Homo sapiens: one gene and its partner. The protein of the gene in region 1 purifies or fractionates together with the protein of each later gene. This does not show direct contact. Each region holds a gene or a part of one and is shown on either strand. Other genes may lie near its edges.

Evidence for each region.
Region 2: the proteins of MTFMT (region 1) and PPM1K purify together in Homo sapiens (co-immunoprecipitation; one large-scale study listed by IntAct). This does not show direct contact.

The regions. Positions count from the first base shown.
Region 1 is NC_000015.10:65,001,012-65,003,325, forward strand, and holds the end of MTFMT (methionyl-tRNA formyltransferase, mitochondrial), read right to left. Parts: intron 2,246-2,314; coding exon 2,051-2,245; 3' UTR 501-2,050; downstream 1-500. UniProt on the Homo sapiens protein: Methionyl-tRNA formyltransferase that formylates methionyl-tRNA in mitochondria and is crucial for translation initiation.
Region 2 is NC_000004.12:88,267,294-88,271,325, reverse strand, and holds part of PPM1K (protein phosphatase Mn(2+)-dependent 1K), read left to right. Parts: intron 1-38; coding exon of another isoform or gene 39-231; intron 232-2,419; coding exon 2,420-2,585; intron 2,586-2,991; coding exon 2,992-3,136; intron 3,137-4,032. UniProt on the Homo sapiens protein: Serine/threonine-protein phosphatase component of macronutrients metabolism.

The DNA of each region.
Region 1 (2,314 bases):
TGGAAGCTAATTCCATTGACTTCCTCTGGGAAGCCTCCATTGACACCCGTGAGGGACACAATGCTTCCCTTATGCCTCTACTATGGCATTTATAACTATTATATTCGCTTACACATTTGTCTCCCTGGTAGGTTGAAGATGTCAAATATTTGATCTCTGAATCTCTGGTAACCAGTTTGAAGTTCTAGTTACACAGTAAGTGCTCAATACATCAGATGACCACACAACCCAGTTTGCCTGGGAGAGTCCTGGTTTATGTCTGTTGCCCTGGAGTAATTATAAGTGCTTCTTTCACTCATAAAAGCATCCTAACTTAGATGACCAAATCACCCTATCCATAAATGTTGAATTAACAAATGACTTAAAGAATAGAGAAAGACTTTCACTGTCAGAATCTAGGCAGGAAAAGCCAATGTGTGGATTCTGCGGCCACTGTGCCTCCTTCTCCTCCTCCTTCTGACTCTCCTGGAGACAGAGAAGATGAGTTTGCACACACCAGATGCTCAATAACCTTTATTGCACAAGTAAGTTGAAAAATGTTAGCACGTTCCTACTTCAAGAAAACCTGGGCCGGGTGCAGTGGTTCATGCTTGTAATCCCAGCACTTTGAGAGGCCAAGGCAGGAGGATTGCTTGGGCCCAGGAGTTCAAGACCAGCCTAAGCAACATAGTGAGACCCCTATCTCTACAAAATTTTTTTTAAAAACTAAGAAAGAAAATTAGCCAGGCGTGGTGGCCCCACTTTGGGAGGCTGAGGCTGGAGGATCACTTAAGCCCAGGAGGTTGAAGATGCAGTAAGCAGTGTTTCACGCCACTGGACTCCAGACTGTGTGAGAGAGCAAGACCCCATCTCTAAAAAAATTAATAAAAAAAAATAAAATCTGGATGTAAAATGTTAATTTATAGTACAGATCAATGTGGCAGAGATTATTAAATATTACCTACGTTTACTACTTGGTTAAATCTAGCTGGTAGTGAAATGTAAAGAGCTGGATTTACTACTTATAGGAAATAAAAAATGCAGATTCAATACTCCTAAAATGTCAGTGGTGACACGATTTTTAAAAAATTAAATAGATGCACTGTTTTTAAAAAAACCTCTTCTCGGCCAGGCACGGTGGCTCACAGCTGTAATCCCAGCACTTTGGGAGGCCAAGGCGGGTGGATCACGAGGTCAGGAGATCAAGACCATCCTGGCTAACACAGTGAAACCCCATCTCTACTAAAAATACAAAAAAAAAAATTAGCCAGGCATGGTGGCGGACGCCTGTAGTCCCAGCTACTTGGGAGGCTGAGGCAGGAGAATGGTGTGAACCCGGGAGGTGGAGCTTGCAGTGAGCTGACATCACGCCACTGCACTCCAGCCTGGGCCACAGAACAAGACTCCGTCTCAAAAAAATAAAAATAAAAACAAAAAACCTCTTCTCAGTATGTATGTAGGTACATACATACACCAGTTAGGGTTGCCCTTGTTCTTAAGGAAAGATAATCTCCTTGAGTTTCGTATCATAAATACAAGTTTTATTTAAACTTTTTTGTAATTCAAGTAAAAAAAAAGCTGTTTTTTAACTACTGTTACATAAAAAGTGGAAAGTGAGGCAATCCATCTTTTCGGCAATAATCTTCTCTTCTTATAATAATGCCATCTTCTTTGAAAGTCCAGATAATTCCAGGCCAGGCACGGTGGCTCACGTCTGTAATCATAGCACTTTGGGAGGCTGAGGTGGGCAGATCACAAGGTCAGGAGTTCGAGACCAGCCTGACCAACATGGTGAAACCCCATCTCTACTAAAAATACAAAAATTAGCTGCGTGTGGTGGCGTGTGCCTGTAATCCCAGCTACTCAGGAGGCTGAGGCAGGAGAATTGCTTGAACCTGGGAGGCGGAGGTTGCAGTGAGCTGAGATAGTGCCACTGGATTCCAGCCTGGGTGACAGAGTGAGACTCTGTCTCAAAAAAAAAAAAAAAAAAAAAAGTCCAGATAATTCCTTGTAAATAAGGTTTTTAATAAATTACAAATATGTAATAGGTTTTTATCCATCTTCTTCCTAACTACTCAATGCATTGTTGCATAGCAACAGTTTTTTTCTGCTTCTTCTTTGTTGGAAGTCTGAGAGTCTGAAATCTGCATTGGCTTGGTTGAGCTTGGGAATTTTTCTGGTACCAGGGGTGCAAATATCCATTGTAGAAGTCAGTAGCTGTTAGTGATTTCTTGAGCATCACTGATCGAACACCAATCCAACCATCCTAAAGGGCAAAATACAAATAGTGAATAGGCAGGGGTGGCAAAACTAAAAAGCCAAGTAAATATTAGTT
Region 2 (4,032 bases), on another chromosome or scaffold:
TTTTCACCAAAATAAAAAACCCTTCCCTTATTTTGCAGCTCTTTCTCTGCTCTCCCCTGTGTTGCAGGTTTGTAATGTTTGAGCACAATTCCTGGGTGAAATTCGTATTTGCCTCTGTGCGTGTTATTTGTGGCAGAGAACTGTGCCTGGTCAGCAGCTCTAGACCTGGAGCCCGTGGACACTATATGCGGGGCTTCAGTGGAAAGAGAGATCTGCTTAATTTTGTCCCAGGTGAAGGAGTCCAGCGGTTCCTATCCTGGACTACGGGAAGGTTCCCACATCTCTTTGTCCCATTAGTTGAGATGACTTGCAGTAGAAATTGTCCAGTGAGTGTTAAGAACTTATTGAAAGATGTCTTAGTTTTCTAGTTTTGTTGTTAGGCAAAAAGTGAGAATTTTTACTTCCATGTTAAATGTTAAATGAAAATGAATGCTGATTTAATATTTACATTCTTAAATGCTTAGCAAATCAGAATTGACAGTTAGTTTTGAAGCCTTTCCTATAAATCCTGGGATTTTGGAACTGTGAAGTTGGGTTGGTAAAAACTCAAAGTCTTAAAATTCCTAGGTGACAGAGCCATAAATTACAAGCCTAAATAACTAAACTTCTACTTATGAAATTTTAACTCTTTTACTGTGGCCAATAATAAACCATTTTTAAGAAAACTATTGTAGATGGTTTAAACAAATGGAAGGAATATTAAATTCCCGGGACAGGTAGCATCTGAATAAATGCCGTGTTCCCTTATCTGGCTCTTTAAATCGTTTGAAATATCATAGTTAGTCAAACTGTAAAGATTCCACTGTTTCATAGTCGTTTGGGTAATTTAAAGTTACGAGTTAACATTTGTAATATAAATATCACTGATACTTATGCTAAAACATTTATGTTATATGGTGGACAAATGTATCTTTCAACATTGCAGAAATATTACATTGGCACGACAGTTCCAAAATCAAGAGAAAAATGGAAAGATAGTGCAACTATAAATGTTATTTCTCAAGAAAGTTCAGCATGACTATAAAAGATTAAGTAGAGTTTGTTCATGCTTTTCCATCTTACTTTTCTGATTAAAGCAGGCATTTTAATATACTGATTGGAAAAATCTATTTATGTATATATCTCCTTCCAATGCATTACTGATGAAGTTTTCAAAATTATCTTTTTGGGGAGAAAAAAAAAGCTTGGAAAGATTGAGTCTTAATCAGTCAAATTAGTAGCACTTCGTTTTTCCTAAATGTACCTTTAAAATCGAAGTCATCTTTGGAATGTTTTAAAGAGTTAACAGTGTTACTAAAGACAATACCTGCTTTAAATAAGTTATCTTTTCCGATTTCTTCCACTTTGTTTTATTTTTTAGCCCATAATTTCACAATATTCTCACTTTTGACAAGGCTCAATGCAAATTAACAATTTTTAACAAGTGGTAAAGAACTTAGGGCAGACACTGTTAGAGGAAATCAAAGGAAGATGCAGAAATGCAGTCTGAGTTGGATGGAGGAAACGGTGACCTCAAGCCCAGTAACAATGAATTTTATTTGTTATTAGAGAAAATTCATATTTGTGGGATGCTCTGGGCCCAAACAGGACCCCAGGAGTTGCAGCTGGCAGTACTGCCCTGCGTTTGAAGACTACCTCTTTGTATTACAACCTTCTGGAGTTAGGAGTGTTAACTACACCAAGTTTATGAGAAGCTAGAATGAACTTCATTCTCCACCTCCCCTCCCCCAGATTTTCTGCTCCTGTAATGATGGTTGTAACTTTGTTTCACGTCTAGGGAGGACAAAGATAAACAGAAAAGAATGTGAGCCTGTAACCATTTTAGGATTTTTTTGGTGAACATTTATAAAATTAAAACAGTTTTAGAAGCATACAGGGGTAGAATATGCAAATGGTATACCCTTGGCATGTCTCACTTAGCCTACTAACTGATAATATGTTCACAGCATAGGAGTGAAAAATGGAAGAGAAAACCTTCTAAATCCATAGACTATAGAAAAGTCAGCTTGCCTCCATGGGCTCAAGTAGACCTAAGTCATCCCACCATCATAGCCAACCTAATTAAATTTTAATACTTTCAGTCTGGACACCAGATATCCATGAAGGTGTTGTTATAAGTTCAAGTCAGCTCTACTTGATATGAATAGAGGCCATTTGTAGATAGTGATGCAGTGTTTGCCAAATAAGGTTAGCAACCTTTCCGTTTGCATGGAGACTTGTTACTGAATTAAATACTTGTTTCTCTGCATGCTGTTACTTACATAGTTCATTTGCATTTTATTTGCTTAGCTCTAGTTAAATTAGAATGATATATTCCAGCATTAGTTTATCATGCTTGTGTTTTATTTTGTAATAAAAATTCCATATCCAATCATTTGACTGTCACTAACTTGTACTCTTTTTTTCATAATACTTGTAGCAACTCTTCTGACCTCTGGGACTACTGCAACAGTAGCCCTATTGCGAGATGGTATTGAACTGGTTGTAGCCAGTGTTGGGGACAGCCGGGCTATTTTGTGTAGAAAAGGAAAACCCATGAAGCTGACCATTGACCATACTCCAGAAAGAAAAGATGAAAAAGAAAGGTACTACCACCACTGATCCATCATATCATTCTATGTGGATGATGTTTTTAGTTCATAATAGTTTTTAAACTGATGTCATGGTTAAGTTTAACAGTGACTTGGTTTTCTTTTTGTTTTTTTGAGACAGAGTCTCACTCTGTCGCCCAGGCTGGAGTGCAGTGGCGCAATCTTGGCTCACTGCAAGCTCCACCTCCCGGGTTCACACCATTCTCCTGCTTCAGCCTCCTGAGTAGCTGGGACTACAGGCGCCTGCCAACACGCTCGGCTAATTTTTTGTTTTTTAGTAGAGACGGGGTTTCACCGTGTTAGCCAGGATGGTCTCGATCTCCTGACCTCGTGATCTGCCCTCCTTGGCCTCCCAAAGGGTTTTCTACATATCACACCATTGTCATTTAACTTTTAACAGGATCAAGAAATGTGGTGGTTTTGTAGCTTGGAATAGTTTGGGGCAGCCTCACGTAAATGGCAGGCTTGCAATGACAAGAAGTATTGGAGATTTGGACCTTAAGACCAGTGGTGTCATAGCAGAACCTGAAACTAAGAGGATTAAGGTAAGAAAGGACCTGCAAACACTTGATAAACCTGCGGAGAGTGAATGTAGGATTGTCTCTGCTGCACCTTTCTTGGAAGCCTTAACTGAAGCCAAAATGATTTTTAAAAGGGAGTAATTTATGGAAGGATAAAAAAACTTTTCAGGTAAAATAAGATGCTACTATTCTGGCCTAATTTATTGTAGAGGACAAAACAATTCTCTTTTTCCCCCTTTTTAGGTTCTTAGTTGAGACACTTTCTTGAAAATAAAAGTCAGATTAACTACAACAACAACAAACAAACAAGCAGACATTTGCACGTGCTGAACCCATTGTACGGGAAAGGCCTCAGTTAAAAGTATTTCTCTTCCAAGGCAGTGGCTTAGGGGCTTTGCTTAAATTGTATTTAAATAGCCATAGATCCTGCATAGTGACAAGATAAAGAAGAGAACAGTTTCAGTCTTTTAAAAGTCAGGAAAATGTGGAGAGATAGTAAAACCTGTTCCCAGATTTCTCTGGTGCCTGCTGGTTCCTTCTCTGGGCCAATAAACAAGTGCTGTCTCCAGTAAAGAAGGACTGATGTCCTGCCACCAGGCAAGTAGAGGCTGAGGAAGTGTACCCCTGCCTTTTCAGTGACTTGACTTTAGCAATCCTCAATATTTCGGGGAGAAATATTTTGGCTTCCCTCAGTTTGAAGTGTTAGGTTTTTGTTTCACCCCAGCTATGGAATTCTCCTGGTGAAATGGTCCTGCTGTTCTTCCTCACCTGCACCCAATCAGCCAGCATCACCTGCACTCAATCATGCAGCATCACCTGCACCCAGTCATCCAGCATCACCTGCACACAATCAGCATCACCTGCATCCAATCAGCCAGCATCACCTGCACCCAAGCAATCAGCATCACCTGCACCCAGTC